Linked DNA regions of Homo sapiens. The protein of the gene in region 3 purifies or fractionates together with the protein of the main gene of each other region. This does not show direct contact. Each region holds a gene or a part of one and is shown on either strand. Other genes may lie near its edges.

The links.
Region 1: the proteins of FAM174C (region 3) and RAB11FIP2 purify together in Homo sapiens (affinity purification with mass spectrometry; one large-scale study listed by BioGRID and IntAct). This does not show direct contact.
Region 2: the proteins of FAM174C (region 3) and GPATCH11 purify together in Homo sapiens (co-immunoprecipitation; one large-scale study listed by IntAct). This does not show direct contact.
Region 4: the proteins of FAM174C (region 3) and SLC41A1 purify together in Homo sapiens (affinity purification with mass spectrometry; one large-scale study listed by BioGRID and IntAct). This does not show direct contact.

What each region holds. Positions count from the first base shown.
Region 1 is NC_000010.11:118,003,478-118,007,199, reverse strand, and holds the end of RAB11FIP2 (rab11 family-interacting protein 2), read left to right. Parts: 3' UTR 1-2,284; downstream 2,285-3,722. UniProt on the Homo sapiens protein: A Rab11 effector binding preferentially phosphatidylinositol 3,4,5-trisphosphate (PtdInsP3) and phosphatidic acid (PA) and acting in the regulation of the transport of vesicles from the endosomal recycling compartment (ERC) to the plasma membrane.
Region 2 is NC_000002.12:37,086,997-37,091,955, reverse strand, and holds part of GPATCH11 (G patch domain-containing protein 11), read right to left. Parts: intron 3,588-4,959; 5' UTR 3,575-3,587; coding exon 3,516-3,574; intron 2,317-3,515; coding exon 2,090-2,316; intron 1,276-2,089; coding exon 1,234-1,275; coding exon of another isoform or gene 1,230-1,233; intron 41-1,229; coding exon 1-40.
Region 3 is NC_000019.10:1,273,663-1,279,047, forward strand, and holds the start of FAM174C (protein FAM174C precursor), read left to right. Parts: upstream 1-1,867; 5' UTR 1,868-1,887; coding exon 1,888-2,168; intron 2,169-3,520; coding exon 3,521-3,637; intron 3,638-5,114; coding exon 5,115-5,115; 3' UTR 5,116-5,385.
Region 4 is NC_000001.11:205,802,261-205,807,219, reverse strand, and holds part of SLC41A1 (solute carrier family 41 member 1), read left to right. Parts: intron 1-4,959. UniProt on the Homo sapiens protein: Na(+)/Mg(2+) ion exchanger that acts as a predominant Mg(2+) efflux system at the plasma membrane.

The sequences.
Region 1 (3,722 bases), on a different chromosome or scaffold from region 3:
GTTTGAGGTCTTGGTAGTTTTTTTTTTTTTTTTAAACATGGTGCCACTTTTAATTAACTAAATGTTACAAAATTCTCAGCATTTGTTTTTGTCTGGTAGTATTATTGAGTCTTTTCATACACTTCTTAAAATGTGAAAATCTATGTTTTCAGTATTATGACAGTATCTGCAGATACTATAATAATATGCTTTGGCCAAATTTGCTGTTTATAGAGTGAACCAAGATGTCAGTTTTGTATTGGGGATATGTTTTACATAAATAGAACTCATTTAAAAGTATGGTTCAAGTACTGCTCTTCTTTTTATGGGGAAATTGATTTTTAAGGAGCGATTCTTTTCCTATATAAAAGCTATTGAGGCTTAGCTTTATTCATACATGAGTGATTTGGTTATAACTCAATCAAAATTTTTATCTTTAAATCTGAGACAAGTATTATATTTAAAACTAGATCTATTAATACATTCATCACTGCCTGAAAATTTGCTGTTCTAATGTTTGTGAATTTTCACTCATTACCTAGAGTAAACTTATTGCATATTTTCATAATCAGTCAAAATAATAAAACTAAAAACAAAAAGTAAAAATTAGTTCCCAAGTAAATATATCAGTGTTTCCTGTGTTTGGGCAGAAGTGCAAAGTAGTTTTAATTTCTCACGTTGTAGAAAAAGAGGCCAAAAAGGTCACCTTAGTTTATTTTTCCAAAACATAACTTTAGGTATTCTAATGTATTTTGTTAGTTGCTTAGAAATGGAAATAAAATATATGTGCTTATTAAATAATGCACAGTACACTAGATTATAGAGTTTATTTTTGCTTTTATGCTTTAAAGAATGCATGCCCAAAACACTACTACCAACAAGAGGATTTTTTAAAATCACAGAATTGATATTTATCTCAAGACTATCTTAAGCTAATGTACTTCTGTTACATAATTAAACTATTTCTGCTATTATTTTTAAAGCAGTATTATTTTATAACCAATTCTAAAATTCAGCTTTAAAAATATTGAACATACCTTCCTACCACTTACGCTTCAAGTTTCATTTATTGAATACCAGGGTCATATCTTAGAATTGTATATAAAACAACATGTAACCCATTCATGAAAAACGTTTTTAAGTATTGCTTTTTGCTGCTATGTTCTGCATTGAGCCTAGTTTTGCCATTGTCCCCTGAATGTAGTATTATCTATAGATTATACATAACTACATCTATTGCTTTTGGTGGTAAATCAAGATTTAGTTGTAATTTTCCAGCTGTGAAAATGTTGCCTTGTATTTAAAAGGGTTTCATGAATGGAAACCTAAGTAAAACTAAGCTCATTAGTGACAGACTTGTTTTCTTCTTGTTATTCCTCCAGCAACTCCCTCACCACCACGCCTCCCTGCCTACCATCCCCGGAAGGGTGCTTATTCTTTAACAAAGAGAATCTAAAAAAAAAAACAAAAAACTGTTGTCTAATATATCTACAGTAAATGTTACACTAGAGCTTTTATTTTCCTCTGTAGCTTTTCAGAAGAAGCAATTTACCTTGGATTTGTAAATCAAGCTGAAACTTTTTTGATGTTCATGTACTCATATGTCTTGTAGGTGGTAGGTGTCACTTGTGTGTATGTGTAAGTGAAGTATGATGCATGCTCATTCACTTGGTCCCTTTGAAATAAGGGAAAGGATCACAGTGCTGCTGGGCCATGATGGTATGTAGAAGGGTCTGTCAGCACACATGGAAAGCCCCCATTTGCACAGATGTAGAACTTTAATAATCCAGATGCAATCATTGGAAGTATTTAATATGCAATTGGTAGCACCTTAGCTAATTAATCTGCATATGAAGCATTTTCTGATATATTTAATAAGAGGTATAGAAGCTCTTCAAGCATTAAAATAGAGTTGATGTTTCATTCCATTTGTTTTATCCATCAAAAAATGCACTCTCACAGTGGAGTTGAAGTCTAATACATGATACATGTGGGCCTGTTAGTCTTCGAAGCTTCCAGATGGTTTGTGTTTTGAGGTACAAAAAAATGCTGCAGATCTAGAAATGCATATATTTAGCGGGTATTTGAAAGATAGAAGCATTATTTATAACTGAAGAGTATAACACTTATCTTCTTAAGTAAATGCTCTCATAACTTGTATACATTTTTGCAGGTACAAATTCAAAAGTATGTAAGCATTGTATAATGTGACAATTGTATAATTTATGTAATCTGATGCATGAATCAGAATTTTTATATAATATATGATTATTGACTTATAGTTGATTAAAGTGTTTAAACTTAATTCAGTTGTCAACATTTATTACAGATACAGCGGTGTTACCATAATGGATTTATATATGAGTCCTCCTTGTTTTTTAATAAATACCTAGGATGCCTCTTATTTGGTGTATTGTAGCACATATTCTGTAAGACCTACAAACTTATTTTACTATGAAGATAGTTCTGAAAAGTCATTCAAAAGAGTAGTTTTTAAGTACAAGTGAACATTCTTCAACAAATGTGTGGATGCCCTCTACATATAAGACATCCCCTCATAGGGATGGAGCTTACGATTTAGTAGAAATGATATTTGAGTATTTATATATAGGCTAAGGTCTCTGCTGAGTACTTCCTATTTATGCTTTATTTTATTTCTCACAACAACCCTGTAAGGTAGGGAATGCACAAGCTTTCAGAGGAAATGTAAGAAAACCTTTTGTGGTACTGAAGAAAGTAGAATAGGGTTGGTACAGCCGGTAGCATTTTTCACCACTTCTTATCCTCCAGCATCTACCAGAAGTCATTAATCAGTCACCACTTCCAGTCCCCTCAACACAACAGTCTAAGTGCATGCCCCTCCATCCGAGGTATGGGTACATTTTTATGGCAGTGTATTAGGCAGTTGTATTCTAGATTATGGGACATGAACCATATGTAGTCTTAGACATAAATCATACATATTTGGCACAAGGGATTTCTCAGCAGACCAGAACGCCTTTCTGTTCTGGAATTGTAGTCCCTTCTGGAGGCCCGTTGAACCTGTCCCTCTACTTCTCCCAGCACATCTCCTTTAGATTCTTCTTTCCACCTGCCCACAGCATGCACGTTTCTTTTTCCTTACTCTGCTGAGGCAAAAATATTTGGAGTAATTTGGAAGTGGAGAGCTGTTATGAGTCTGTTAAGGTGGCCATTTTTCATGTAGGGCTTGTGACCTAAATGCCCAACATTTGACATTTTTCCTCAGATAATTTTGCATGATACCACAACTTCATACTTTTATATTTTTATGATTATACAGTTAATACTTATAAGCAATATTTAATTTTGTATTTATGTACCTATAATTACATGAACTAAAAGTGCTTAATTTTGATCTTACAGTCCTCACACCCTAAAACTTGATTCTTAAATGTTCAGTGGTTTCATCATTTGGCATACTGAAAAGCGAAATTTATGCTAGGAAGCACAAAATCAAATTTCTCTGTCAGAGGATTTCAATTAATGGTGTGTTGTGTTCAGATGTAAGGTATGGTATGGTTGGTCACTAACATTAGTACCAAAGTTTGCGCGTAATTTTTTAAAATTAGAACAATGTAAAGATTATTGCTATGATAGTGTTACATTCTGTTATGCTCTGGCAAATGATGGAAAAGTGTGTTGAGAGTGAGACTGGGGGTTATGTGCAGTTCCCAGCAAACTTTCTCATTTGTGCTGCAACCCTTAGTGCAGGAATTGCAAAC
Region 2 (4,959 bases), on a different chromosome or scaffold from region 3:
TTCCGTTTTAATGATGCCTCATGACCAATGCCACTTTTCCCTATTCAAACAGAAAATTCTGATGAGAAACATCCTGACTTTGTGCTTCAAAACAAGACGATTTAACTATGTACAAATTAAATGCAATTCTCATTTGAGTACTATCACTCACAAATCATTTGAGTACACTAATAGTAGAAAACACTAGGGTTTTTTTTAAGCCCAAAACATAATCTGATTTTTACAAAGATTGTTAATCTCATCTTATAGTAATATTATAAACAATTTTTCAAATCAGAAAAACAGTATTAGCTGTTATAGTTTTATTTAAATATGAATAAAATATATCTTTTTCTCTTGAATTCATCCAAGTATTAAGCAAAACATTTGGTAGATAAATCTGTCTCAGAACACTTTTATTTTATTTTATTTTTATAGGGACAGGCTGGTATGTAGTGGCACAATCATGGCTCACTGTAACCTCGAACTTGTGGGCTCCAGGAATCGTCCCGCCTCAGCCTCCTGAATAGCAAGGACTACAGGTGCGTGCCACTACACCCGGTTAATTTTTTAAATTTTTTGCAGAGATGAGGTCTTGCTATGTTGCCCAGGCTGGTCTCAAATTCCTGGCTGCTTTTTTTTTTTTTTCCTTGAGATGGAATTTCACTCTTGTTGCCCAGGCTGGAGTGCAATGGCGCAATCTTAGCTCACTGCAATCTCTGCCTCCTGGGTTCAAGCGATTCTCCTGCCTCAGCCTCCCAAGTAGCTGGGATTACAGGCATGCACCACCATGCCCGGCTAATTCTGTATTTTTAGTAGAGATGGGGTTTCTCCATGTTGGTCAGGCTGGTCTTGAACTCCCAACCTCAGGTGATCTGCCTGCCTCGGCCACCCAAAGTGCTGGGATTACAGGTGTGAGCCACCACGCCCGGCCAACTCTTGGCTTTAAGCAATCCTTCTGCATCGGCCTCCCAGAGCAAAACAGTTTTAAGACATTTCAATGGACAAAAACAGTATTGCACATTCAATGGTTGTAATGATTTGTTCTTCCCATATTCGTGTGGTTTAAATTTTATTTTATACTCACTAAAACTTATTTCTTTTCTGGTTGAAGAGGTTTAGAAATTTAACAAAATTTTACTGAACTGTAACAGTATTATCATTTAAAAAAAAGTATTTATTGAGCAAATATATGTGGTAGACCTAAGCGTAAGTTATTATTATTGGCAAATATGCTCCAAAATAATTACGTACCTGTTTTGATATTGAGAGGAATTGGTTCAACAATACCACCCCCTTAAAGAGAATGAATACAAACTATTTTAGAAAATTTTCCTCAAACTACAGAACAGTATAAGTATGCAACTTTACAATGCTCTATGCATATGCCCTCCTGTTTCAATGATATTCAAAATTGAAATCTGAACATCTATATATATTCTATATATAATCAATTATCTACCTTGTCTTCAAATACCTACTCATCAAAAAGGCTGATTCACAGCCTCCTATGCCACCTGAAGGTGGAGTTTTAAGAAGGAACAACACTGATATTATTGGTGCAAGACGGTGACAGCCTTAAGTGAAAGCAAAGCAATTACGATAAAGGAAAGAAAAACGGTTTACAGAGGTTACTATAAATATATAGCCTCTCTAGCTTAATAAGCAGTTTCACTTCCTAAAAAGAGAGGTGAGAATTGAGCCTCTCCAACTGGACGGTCATTCAGATGGCTGCCACAGGTACAGAGCAAGCAGGGCAAAGTCTTGCCATCATCCTCAGTGTTGTTTCAATGTATTTAGCCATTGCACTTCTCAACCCATCACTTATCACCATTCTTTGCTTCTTCTGTTGTAAGCCACATCCATCTAGGTTGTTAGTGCCTTCAGCTAAGCTGGGCTGATAAGCAGCTCTTGATGGCACATGTGGTATCTAAAATGGATGTGGGATGATGAAAAGCTCTCCATAAGGCTTGTTAATACATAATAGACTAAAAAGCCTAAGTTGTTATAATTTCTGTGTAGATAAAGATTAAAGCATCAGCTTTGGTCCTTATCCATAAGTCACAATTAGGTGGTAAGGAATACCTGTTTATTTCCACATGTGACTTACCACTCTTGCCAAGTGCCTGACCACTTTTATAGCCCATCTTTTGGAGCAAGGCAAACCCTTTGTTTTCACAGCCTAGTGCATTCTTCAACCCAATGTCACGTCTTTCTTGTTCTTCTTCTTTTAAACTCTTCTGCCTGTTTTTCAAATTGGCTTCCTGTTGCTTTTCTTCTTTTCGACGGGCTTCTCGGATTTGCCTTAGCATTGGCAATCCTGGTCTGATATCTTCTCTGAATAAGGGAAAAGTTTATTTTAGATGAGTCCATAAAGTTTTCTTTTCTTTTTTTTTTTTTTTATTTTTTGAGACGGAGTTTCGCTCTTGTTGCCCGGGCTGTAATGCAATGGCATAATCTTGGCTCACTGCAACCTCCGCCTCCTGGGTTCAACCGATTCTCTTGCCTCAGCCTCCTGAGTAACTGAGATTACAGGCGCCCACGACCATGCCCGGCTATTTTTTGTATTTTTAGTAGAGACGGGGTTTTGCCATGTTGGCCAGGCTGGTCTTGAACTCCTGACTCCAGGTGATCTGCCCGCCTCAGCCTCTCAAAGTGCTGGGATTACAGGCGTGAGCTTCCACGCCTGGCCAAGTTTTCTCATAACTCTGTCACTTACTCACCTGACAACAGTTAATATTTCGGCACTACCTCTATGATCATCTTTGTTATTATGATATTAGAACATAATCAGTGACCTCTAAGAATGGCTGTTTTAGTAGAAATGATGAAGGCTGGTGCCAGATCATAGGAAAATAAGGAAAGCACGAAGTTGAAGAAATCAGATATAGTAAGTTTAGACTTACTATGTTTCTAGGATGTTGGCAATAATAAAGAACAAAGTTGTATAGCAGCTAGAAGAGACAATATGATGTAATAAAGGAAAAGGAGTAAATTTCCTTGGAAGAAGGCAATAAAAAGGATCAAGGGCAAAAGTAAAATGGTTAGCATTAAAAGGAGGAAGTAGATTCTAGTATCTTTCTATGGTGACATAGGAGGTATTTCCATAAAGCAAGAAGACTGACTTTCCCACTGCACATTTAAAATCACTGTCAGGCTGGGCACGGTGGTTCATGCCTGTAATCCTAGCACTTTGGGAGGCCAAAGCCGGAGGATCGCCTGAGCCCAGGAGTTGGAGACCAGCCTTGGCAACACAGTGAGACCTTGTCTCTCCAAATAATAAAAAAGAAGAGTTAGCCGGGCATGATGGTGCAGGCCTGCAGTCCCAACTACTCGGGAGGCCAAGATGGGAGGATCTCCTGAGCCTGGAGAGTTTGAGGCTGCAGTGAGCTAAGATTGTGCCACTGCACTCCAGCCTTGCTAACAGAATGAGACCCTGTCTCAAAAAAATAAAATAAAATAAAATAAAATCAATGTCATTTCTTAATCTACACATCTTATACATATCATTGCACTGGGTGTGCACATTTACTTACTGGACATTAATGAAGGAATCAGACATATAGTCCTCTTCTTCTGCCATGTTCAACTTCATATGGCTATAGTATCTACAAATAAAGTAATAATTACTTTTTTTTTTAGTTTATCAGAATGGAAATAAACCTTTCTGTATCTGCAGCCATGAGCTGTCTCTAGAGCTCTACTATATATTCAAGTGCCCTTTGGACATCTTTATCTGTGGACATTTCAAACTCAACAATCTAAACAACTCATTTCTTTCCCCTTTCCCCAGCCTTCTACATCCCCTGTGTTTCCATGTTGATGTCATCATTATCTCCTTCTTCCTGACCTCTTATGAAGCTGTCAAGTCTTCCTCCATAAAACTCCTCACAGACGTTTTCTCTACAGTTGTGACCACTGCTTTAGTTCAGGCACTTTTTTTTTCTCACCTGAACTATTACAACAGCTTCTTAATCAGCTTCTTAGTTGGTCTCCTCTTCCAGTCCATTCTCTGCACCCCATCCAGAGGTTTTTTGTTTATTTGCTTGTTTGTTTTTAAATACAAGTCAGGTCACGTTACTAGCCTGTTTCAAATCCTTCATTAAACCTGACCCTGTAGGCAGTGGGGGACCAGTCACTTTTGCAAAGCATGAGATGTTGTCCTTCATAATCTGACACAACTGTCCCTAAGGATTCATTATTCAAGCCCCATGGCTCCTCACTGCCCTCTGAACAGAGTACAAACATTTCTTCCCTGTAGGCCAAGGCTACCCTCCCTTCAGAAACCTCTCCTGACCACTCCAGGCCTTTCTCTACAGCACTTTATGTCCAAGCTGCTCATTTGGAAGTTGATATAGTTAACAACTCACTTATGTGGAAATATTTTGAGGGACAGTTTCTATCCAAAATAGTTAAAATCATGTAATTATTGGCCCTTAAAGGGTTAAAGTAATTTTCTACAAAAGTACTTCTCAAACTTTATTGTGTATACAAATTGCACTGAGATCTTCTTAAAATGCAGAATCTGATTCTGGGGCTGGAACCTGAGGTTCTGCATTTCTAGCAGGTTCACAGGCAATGTCAATGTTGCTAGTTCAGTTGCTTAAGACAAAAGTGTATTCACTTGTTGTGGTGCATATGTACTGTTTTTTCCTGCCTACCATCTTTTCCTTTGGGAATCCAACCCTCTGCCCTTCATGTGGTTTTAGTGGAGGGTGGCAATGTCAGTATCCCATATTTCCTTGGGCACAAAGATGGTCAATTATAGTACTCTATGTCCAGCACCAGGGGACGAGATGACCCAGCCAGAGAAATAACCATCTTTTTCCTTACATTATATGAATATATGGGTTGTGGGGGAAAGAAGGTCTTTTATGGGTGTTTCTGAACTGGGAGAATGTGAAGCTGGGCTGTGGATGGCCATCTTCTTGGCCCCATGAAGGGATCTTGTCTGAAGAATGAAGCCAGATAGAGAAAATG
Region 3 (5,385 bases):
CGCAAGCTGCTCCCTTGGCTAGCTCATATGTGGAAATAGCCCTGTAATTCGAGGTAACTCCTTCCGCTCGTGTCCACATCCCTCTTGTTGAGAGCTCACTGAAAGTCATGTGCCCGGGGAATGTTCCTGTGACTGTTTTTTGTTTTTCCTTTTTTTTTTAACTTTGTTTTTGTTTTTTTCAATTAAGCTGGAACTAAAGTCAGGCCCAGCCATTACGCTCCCCACGTGCAGCCAGGTGCAGCCTGGGCCCAGTCATGCCTGGCTCATAGATGAAATCCCTTAAGCAGGATTGAAGACCAGTGAACGCCCCCGCCTTTTGGATTTTTTGCTCAATTGACCGTCTTTTCCAGACCTCTTTAAGTCACACTCTTAACTTAGCTTTCTCTGATGTCTGTTGCCGCCATTAGTTTTTTTCTAGAGCCCACACTGGCCCACATAGCTCCATCCCATACGGGTAGCTGGCTCCAGCTGCGCCAAGGTGCAGACCCGCCCTGGGCATGCTGGCCTGTGACGGAGCCTGAGGTCACAGCCCCCTGACTAGCCTGAGACCTTCCTAGGGGCTGTGGCTGTTTCCGGGGAGGCCGGGAGGGGCAGCTGTGAGCCCTGTGGAGGACGTTGGGAGTAACGCTGCTTTGCTTTGGCAGGTTGAAGGGGCCCGGCCAGGACTCGGGGAAGGGTGGCCTGAGAGCAGCGATGACCTCTGGGGTCACTGTCCCAGGAGGGACTTCACCTGGAACAAGAGCTGGAGGCAGCCGCTTGCCCAGGAGGCTTGTCCCCTGTAAGTGCTTTCGGGAAGAGTGGCATGTGGCGCTGAGCCCTGTCCCGGGCGGCACCTGGGCGTTTCAGTGAGTCCTGCTCTCCCGCACCTATGGCCCCATGGCGGGCGCCTTTCGGTGTGTGTTGGGTGCAGGGCAGCGCCTCCCGGGAGCGCCGGGTCCCCCGCCTGGAGCCCGCGCCTGTTCTCCCTCCCTTCCTCCTCCTTCCAGGAGGCGCTTCGCCAGTGAGGTGCGGGCTCAGGGCCTCGAGTCTCTCCTGGAGCACGGGCTGCGGTGCGCCGGCAGCTTACGGGGCGGCCAGTCCTTGCCCACAACGATGTGGAGCCCTGTGAAAGTCGGATTCGAATAAAGGGCCACGTGTGCACCCAGAAAGCCGAGTCTGTGGTTCAGGGGGGTCTGTCGGCGGAGCGGGGCCACTGGAAGAAAAGCCTGCGGACCTCGGTTCAGCGCACGAGTAGGACCCGACAGGGAAGACTGCAAGGGTCATTGTCCGAGCAGTGACCGCGGGGGGCTCGCCACTGAGGGGGTTCGCAGCGCGGAGACTCCAGTCTCGCGGGATCTGAGGCGCACTCGGCTTCGAGGGAGCGGCGGCCGCGCAGCCGCTGTCAGGCCCCGTCTTGGGCCGAGTCCCGGGTTCCCTGTAGCAGGCTTGGGAGCGGGGCGCCACCTTCCTGGGCCCTGGACGTGGCCGACGCGTTCTCAGTGTCCGTGAGGCCGGGGCAGGAGTGGCGGGGGTCGCCCCGAAGTGGGTGGGAATGAGCGGCCCGAGGTCCTGAAGTCGGGGTCCGCCCCGTCTCCCCGCTGCCAGCCCGATTTCCTCGGAAGCCGCGACCCCCCACGCTGGGCTGGCAGTTCTGGGCTCTGCCGGCTGCGCCTTGCCGGGACTCCCACGGGCGGGCTCCGGGCCTCCGTCCTGATCCCTTGGAGCGGTTCGACGAAGCAAGTTCCGCGGCGGGCGCGCGGGGCACTGTGGGTAGCGCCGGGGCTCACCAGGCGGAGGCGGGGCCCGGCGTCAAGCTCCGCCTCCGCGCCCCATTGGCTGGCATCACCTCCGCGCGCCTGACTGACAGCGCGCATAGGGGCGGGGCGCCGCCACCGCTTCCGCCGGGCCATGGGGCCGCGCGTGCTGCAGCCGCCGCTGCTGCTGCTCCTGCTGGCGCTGCTGCTGGCGGCGCTGCCGTGCGGTGCCGAAGAGGCCTCGCCGCTGCGCCCCGCGCAGGTCACGTTGTCGCCGCCGCCGGCCGTGACGAACGGGAGCCAGCCGGGCGCGCCACACAACAGCACGCACACGCGTCCGCCGGGGGCGTCGGGCTCGGCGCTGACGCGCTCCTTCTACGTGATCCTGGGCTTCTGCGGCCTGACCGCGCTCTACTTCCTGATCCGGGCGTTTAGGTGCGTCAGGCGCACGTGGGCGCCGTCTCTCAGCCTTGGCCAATTAGCGCGCGCCTAGTGCGTCACGTGCCGGGCCGCGGGGTCCTCCCCTCCCTCCCTCCCTCCCTCCCTCTCTCCCTGTTGGAGTGGGCGTGGGCGGTGCTGTGCGGGGTCGTCACGTGGTGTGGGCGGTGCAGGGGCCACGGGACTCACCCGCTCTCCAGCCTGCGCCTGGGGTTGGAGGTGCCCAGCGCGCCGCCTCTTAACTCGGGGGTGACGCTGCCCGTTTCCCAGGTGGGGCCACTGAAGCCGGAGCATGCCGGGCAGGGGTCAGGCCCTGGCGGGGCGAGGGGGCCTCCTTGGCTCCTTGTCGCCGGATGCCCGTCCTCGTTCTCATCTTCCCGCCTGCCGCCAGGCCTTTCCGTGGGGTCCCGATATTTTCCTTTCTGCTTCTACCCACTGAAGCTGGTTCGTCGCCAGGGTCGGCCACGTGCCCGCCTTGGGTGCTCCCACAGCCCGGGAGGTGCAGCTGCGTCCCCAGACCCTCGCGGGGGTCTCCAGCTGTAGGCAGCCCCTGGGCAGGAGGGGCTTCTGCGTGTTCAGGCCACCCCGGCTTCCCTGGCCTGTGGCTCCAGTCTCCTCTGGGCTCCTGACTACCCAGTGTGGCTGCTTCTCCCGGGTGGGAGAGACACAGCGAGGACCTTATCCCTCCCCATCACCACCCTGGCAAAGTCAAGCCGCTTTTTATTTTTTATAAGTTTTTATTGTAGCGATGGGGTCTCGCCATGTTACCCGCGCTGGTCTGAACTCCTGGGCTCAAGTGATCCTTTTTCGTTGGCCTCCCAAAGTGCTGGCATTATAGATGTGAGCACCTGCACTCCGCCATGCTGCTTTTTATGGGCCCTGTGCAGAGCCTCCCCTGTGCTCCACACCTCTTCCTGTGGAAGCACCTGCTGCGCGCTCTCCCCTGCCTGTATGCCGCGCCCTCCCTGCCTCCCGGGCTGCTGGGGCCACCAGGGGCTTGGCCCTGAGACAGGCTTCCATTCTGTTGTCTTTGGCAAAGTCTCACCCCTGTGTGAGCCTCAGTCTTTTCATCAGTGCAATGGGAGTGACATCAGCGTGCCTCTCCTGGGGTCCTGGCGCAGGGGAGATGGGAGGGCCTGGTAGGGCACATGTCTTCTTACTGTCATCGCCATGGGAGTGAATGGTAATCACTTGGCGATTAGGACATGAAAGAAGCAGGCACAGCAAAACCAGGGAGGTCTGCAGCAGGGCTCGGGGCTCCAGTAGAGGACGGCAATGAGAGTCCTGAGGGAAGGAGGAGGCAGGGTTGGCGGGGAGGGGCCACTGACTATGCCTGGACCTACTTCCAGGTTGAAGAAGCCTCAGCGGAGGCGATACGGCCTCCTCGCCAACACTGAGGACCCCACGGAGATGGCCTCGCTGGACAGCGACGAGGAGACGGTGTTTGAGTCCCGGAATCTGAGATGGTGTGCACCCTTCCCCAGCTCTGGGGCCTCGGTGGGCAGGCTGGGCTGGAGACTCAGCAGGACCCTGGGGACTTGGCCAAGCCATGGAGTGGTCCCTGCAATCACAGCTGACAGCGGTAGTCAGGCCATGGCCCCACTGGGCAGGGCTCATCCCTTCTCCCAGCCTCCATTTACAACTTTTTTTTTTTAAACTTAAATGTTTGTCATTTATTTATTTTTGAGGTGGAGTGGCGCGATCCCAACTCACTGCAACCTCCGCCTCCGGGATTGAGGCGATTTTCCTGCCACAGCCTCCCGAGTAGCTGGGATTACAGGCACCCGCCACCACGCCTCGCTAATTTTTTGTATTTAGTAGATAGAGATGGGGTTTCACCATGTTGGCCAGGCTGGGTTCCAGCTCCTTACCTCAGGTGATCCATCTGCCTGGGCTTCCCAAAGAGCTGGGATTACAGGTGTGAGCCACCGCACCTGACCTAAGTTTTGTTTTGTTTTGAGATGGAGTTTCGCTCTTGTTGCCCAGGCTGGAGTGCAATGGCACGATCTCTGCTCACTGCAACCTCCACCTCCCAGGTTCAAGCATTTCTCCCATCGCAGCCTCCTGAGTAGCTGGGATTAAAGGTGCTCACCACTACACCCGGCTAATTTTTGTAGTTTTAGTAGAGACAGGGTTTCACCATGTTGGCCAGGCTGGCCTCGAACTCCTGACCTCAGGTGATCTGCCCGCTTCGGCCTCCCAAAGTGCTGGGATTACAGGTGTGAGCCACCGTGGTCAGCCTTCTTGCTTTTTTAAGGCAGGAAAGCGGCTGCAGGGCTTAGGGTAGTGGTTGCTCCATCTGGGCCCCTCCCTGAGGGATGAGGTCTAAGTCAGGTGGAGAACTGACTGCAGGATGCTTCTGAGCGGGCGGGGTCAGGGAGGGCCTCTCCCTGGTGTAATGGGGCTGGCTTCTGGAAGAGTGTCTCAGGCCGAGGGAACAGCAGGGAGCGGCCGGGCTGCGCAGATGCCGGGCGGGACTGGGGTAGGCCTGGGCATCGAGGCAGCTGTCAGGGGTTAGCAGGGTTCTGGGCAGGGAATGATGGGTATGTTGCGCTGCAGTGTGGCTGCTGGGGGGACCTTGGCCTGTTGGGGGGTGGCAGGCATGGAGGCTGGGAGACCAGGAGACTGGGCGGCCTCTGGGGACAGCTCTGACTTTTTGAGCCCCCAGGGAGGGAGGCACTGGGATCCCTCCGCATGCTCTGACTCCATTCTGGGAACCCCTCCCAGGTTTCTTCTACCTCCTGGCTGGGGGCCCCTTCCCCCGGAGTGGGCAGTTGCACAGGGCCCAGGAGGCCGGGGAGGGAGGCCAGTGGGGGGAGGCTGGGCCCTGGTAGACCGAGGGGCCTGGACAGGCTGCCTGCCCCTGCCTGACCTGGGTGAGCCTCTGCCCGGCAGGGCGGGCCCTTCACTCCTTCCCTCTCACCCTTGACCCCCTGCTTTCAGATGCTGAGCCAGGGAGGCGGCCCTTCCAGCAGCCATGAGGGAAGGACAGGAGATGGGGCCCACCCCAGTGCCCAGCAACCCCCTGCTCCACCGCTCATTCCCCTGCTGGCCCCGGGGCTGGTCTCACCCAGTGCCAACCCGAGAGCTCCTTTTGGAACCTGCACAGCCCGCCGACCTGTTGCCACCTGCACCCACCGCTGGACCATGCAGCCTCGCCTCCTGGATGCTGTCCCAGCCTGGCCGAGGGTCCCAGGTGAAGACTGGAGGGACC
Region 4 (4,959 bases), on a different chromosome or scaffold from region 3:
AGACATGGGACCACAGGGAGATTGTTATTCCACATCCATGGGAGTAAAAGGGGGACTGACAATCTCAGATTCAGGAAGAGCGGGATGGTTTCTAAGGATTCACACCTATATTACCCCTTCATAAGCTAAGATGGACTTCAGTAAGAGAATCTGAAAGTGCCCCAAGACCATGGGGCCATCTGGAGAAGCTGGCTATGGAGTGTCCCCAGCATCTTGGAGCAACTGAGCAGGAGTCCATATTGGGCCTGGTTCAGATGTCTCCTTGGTCCAGGGCCCCCATCTTTCCTTGCTGCTGTAGAAAACTTGGTTTCTTTTTCACCAACGAGATGCAAAAAAAATAAAAATAAAAAGTTGAATTTTAATTTTAATTTAAAAGAAAAAGAAAACCCACTCTCTTCCTAGAAGGGTCATTTCTGCCTCCTCTTATCTGCCCTCCCGTAAATGTGCACAGCAGCATCTGCAGTGAAATAAGGGGCTGGTGCTGGCCCAAAGTAGGAAAAGGATAAATGGACCTCCATCTGCTCTAACTTCCCAACCATGGCTGAAAGTTCCTGCAGCATCTGGAAGGGAAGCAGGCTGGGGCCTGGTGTTGGCTTCTGAAGGGGGTTGGGATATGGGAGCCTCCTCACTGCAGGAGCCTTGTGCCCATCTGCCCAGTTTGGTCCTAGGCTGCTCCGGATGTCTCACTCCCTTTATCTGTCAGCCTTTGTGAGGGATGGGGTGACAGGAAGTAGTGTGCCCATCTGCACTTTAATTCCCAGCTAGGTTAAGACAGGTCCTTATTTTAACTCACTACTCACCTGCTAAGGATCTTGAACAAAGTAGATCCTGCTGTGTATACAGAAGTCTACAACGATGAAAGTGCATGGCAAGCGTGGCCTTGGGGAAGTAGAGTGGGAAGGAAGTATTCCTCCTGTGCCTGGCCTGCTCCTGTGGCCGCAGCATCCCTGGGCGGGACACTCTTATCTGCTTCACTTGACCACCCCTTCTGCTTTTCCCATCTCTGTCCCCTGCCTGCTGTCAGGGACCCATTTGCTTTGCTCCTGCTTTGTCCTGCACCGTATATCCAGGTGTTGCCCTAAAGCCCTTTCCTGGACACCTAGAGGATGCCTTTTGGAAAAGCCTCAGACAGGTGAAGCCTGGGGTTACTGTAATCTCATCTGACCCAGTCCTTACCCTAAAAGATCAGCTCCAGCCCAGCTTCTCCCACAGGAGCCCAGATTCTCCCCAGCCTGGAGCCTAAAGCTTGTATCTGGGAATTTAAGTCTTCTTAATGTCTTGATTCCTGGCTCTGACTTTCTTCCCTGCTGCTACCCTCCTGAGGTGGCTCAGGCCAGAACCCTTGAAGGCAGGTCAGGGTCAGTGTATGAGCTTGGATTGGAGTAGGTGAAGGATGGAAGAGGCGCATTGGAAGGGCAAGGAAGAGGTACTGGCAGGACCACTGAGGATCGAGACTTAAGGTGATTGCTGTGCCTCAGGATTCATTTTGGCTATGGGGGAGGCAGTCTATTCCCTCACCTGCAGAATACCAGGGATCCATGAGCCCCTCACACCAAGGTTAGAGAAGGAAAGAGATGAGGAGCTGCATTTCTGAGAAGTAGTTAAAATCTAGATGCTCCCCTCACCTCCAAGCAGGGCAGCACTTCCTGGAACATGCCCTTTTTCATCCCCATCAGAGCAGGAAGGCGTGGGTGGCTGCTTGGCAGACGGGTGTGACTTCAGGGGCAGATACTCCTAGCCTGGATGAACAGGATGGGGCTGAATTTGGCCAAAGGAGGAAGAAGAGCTACTCACTGTCTGCCCCTGCCCATCCTGTCTACTCCTAACCTTAAGGCCACCTTGATTCCTGGGCTGGCTCCACATCTCCAGCCTCCAGCATCTCTTTCCAGAGTCCTATGCATGCCCATGTGTCAGAGGCTTTCTGCCTGAGCTGCAGCTTTGAGAGGGTTTGTGGGTGAAGAAAGTATGTGTGTAGGAATTGGCTTCTCTGACCCAAGTGCCAACTCGGGGCTTTGCTGGCCTGGGGTCAGGTCGTTTGAGGTTCCAGGCTATATTCTGTAAGAGTCGGGAAGACTTTTGCATAGGGGCTGTTACTGTGACTGCTCCCTCTCCTTGCCTGTCTGTCTCTTATCCCACTGCTCCTAACACTCCGTACTTTGTAGATCCTCCTGTAGCTATAAGGAGAGGGTGCATTGTGCTGGGAGGTAGAGAGATTTGGGGTGCTTATGGTAGCAACCAGAGGAACTTAGCTGAGCTTTATACATTTTTCTTAAATAATAATAAAAGCAAGCAATATTCATTACAAACAGCTCAGAAAACATTGCTTGCATACATGTGGAGTCTTCTTGTGGGCTTTTTCTTTCTATGAGTACATGTACATTACATACACCTACCTGTAGAAGTCAGATTTTCATGGAGCTGGCAGCTTGGAAGCAGGGTGGAGCTGGTGTTTTGGGGTGAAGATGAGCTCTGAGGCTGTGCTCTGAGAGGAGCTTTGAAAGCCCGCAAGGGAGGGGAGAAGAGGGGGATTTTTCCCCTCTCTGGAGCTGGTTTGGGAGGAAGCAGGAGGCGAAGCAGAGCAAGGCCAGACTGCAGGGAGCTGGAGCCTCAGTGGTATGTACCAGCCGTGTCCAAGAGTAACAGTCCCCAAGTTGCTCCAGGGCAGATGGGGCTCACTGGGGCTGCCTTCTCTCTGGGGGGTCTTAGGGTGGGAAGGGATTCACTTCCCTTCAGTGTTTGGAGAGGGCTGGCTCATCCTTTGGCTGCCTGGAAGCCCAGTAACTGTTGTTGAGATGGGGGGCAGTCTCTTCCCCATTGTTAGTCCCTACGGTGGGGCTTCCCTAAGGAGAGTCCCAGGTCTTGGCCAGACCAGAAGCTCAGGCAAGCGTATGCTCCAGCCCCAGTGAAATGAGTCCTTCCCCAGGATCCTGTGAGGCCTCCCACCCCATTCACACAGGGAGAGCTCCGACAGGAAAAGAGAGGTTCTTGCCTTATAGGGCCACCCAGCGCCCAGCCTCTCCTGGTCTCAAGCCCTAGCCCCACCCCCTCTGATAGCCTTGCTTATCTTTTTGGTTATTGTGGTAAAAAATGTGTAACATAAAATTTACCATCTTAACCCTTTTTTAAGTGTGCTGTTCAATAGTACTACGTATATTCACCTCATTGTACAACAGATCTCCAGAACTCCTCATCTTCCCCAGCTGAAGCTCTGTACCTATTAAACACTCACTCTTTTCCCTGCTCCCCCAGCGCCTTGCTTCCACCATTCTTCTTTCCGCCTCTATGAATTTGACTACTTAGGCTGGGCTCGGTGCCTCATACCTGTAGTCCCCACACTTTGGGAGGTCGAGGCGAGAGGATCCTTTGAGCCCAGGAGTTCGAGACCAGCCTGGGCAATATAGTGAAACCCCTGTCTCTACAAAAAATACAAAAATTAGCCAGGTGTGGTGGTGCATGCCTCTAGTCCCAACTACCCGAGAGACTGAGATGGGAGGATGGCTGGAGCCCGAAGCCATGATTGCACCACTGCACTCCAGCCTGGGCCACAGAGTGAGACCGTGTCTCAAGAAAAAAAAAAAAAAAAAAAAGAATTTGACTACTTTGGATACCTCAGATAAGTGTTTTTTATCTGAGTGTTTTATCATACAGTGTTTTTTATGACTAGAGTAATGTCCTCAAGGTTCATCCATGTTGTGGCATATGACAGGATTTCCTTCCTTTTTAAGGCTGAGAAATATTCCATGGTATATATGTACCACACTTTGCATATTTTGTTTATCCATTCATTCCTTGATGGACATTTGGGTTGCTTCCACCTCTTGGTTATTACATATAGTGCTACTATGAACATGGGCATATTAATATATCTTCAAGACCTTGCTTTCTATTCTTTTGGATAAATATCCAGAAGTGGGATTGCTGGATCATGTGGTAGTTTTATTTTTAATTTTTTGAGGAACCACCGTACTGTTTTTCATAGCAGCTGCACCATTTTATAGTCCCACCAAGAGTGCACAAGGGTTCCAATCTCCACATGCTTTTTTCTTTTCTTGAGACGGAGTCTTGCTCTGTCACCCAGGCTGGAGTGCAGTGGCACTGTCTCGGCTCACTGCAACCTCCAACTCCCAAGTTCAAGCAATTCTTCTGCCTCAGCCTCCCCAGTAGCTGGGATTACAGGTGTGCGCCACCATTCCCGGCTAATTTTTGTATTTTTAGTAGAAACAGGGTTTCACTATGTTTGCCAGGCTGGTCTCCAACTCCTGACCTCAAGTGATCCACTTTCCTTGGCCTCCCAAAGTGCTGGGATTACAGGCATGAGCCACTATGCCCAGCCCAAACTCTACATCCTTGCTAACACTGATTATTTTCTGGGTTTTTAAATAGTAACCATCCTAATGAGTGTGAGGTGATCTCTTACTAATCTACAGTATTGCTCAACTTTATTTTATCTATTTTATTTTATTTTATTTTATTTTATTTTATTTTATTTTATTTTATTTTTGAGACAGAGTTTCACTCTTATTGCCCAGGCTGGAGTGCAGTGGTGCGATCTTGGCTCACTGCAACCTCCACCTCTTGGGTTCAAGCGATTCTCCTGCCTCAGCCTCCCGAGTAGCTTGGGATTACAAGCATGTGCCACCACGACCAGCTAATTTTTGTATTTTCAGTAGAGACGGGGTTTCTCCATGTTGGTCAGGCTGGTCTCAAACTCCTGGCCTCAGGTGATCTGCCCGCCTCGGCCTCCCAAAGTGCTGGGATTATAGGTGTGAGCCGCTGCGCTCGGCCACTGCTCATCTTTAACGACAGAGTGTGGGTGTTGGAATTGCCTTGAAAGACCATCTGATCTGGTCCCTGAATTGAACATTTTTCAAGAGCTTGAGGCCCTTGTAACTTGTCTAAGGTGTCCAGCCGGTCTACGTGAGGAGGTGTACTGGGGAGATAAGCAGGGGGCCATCCCTG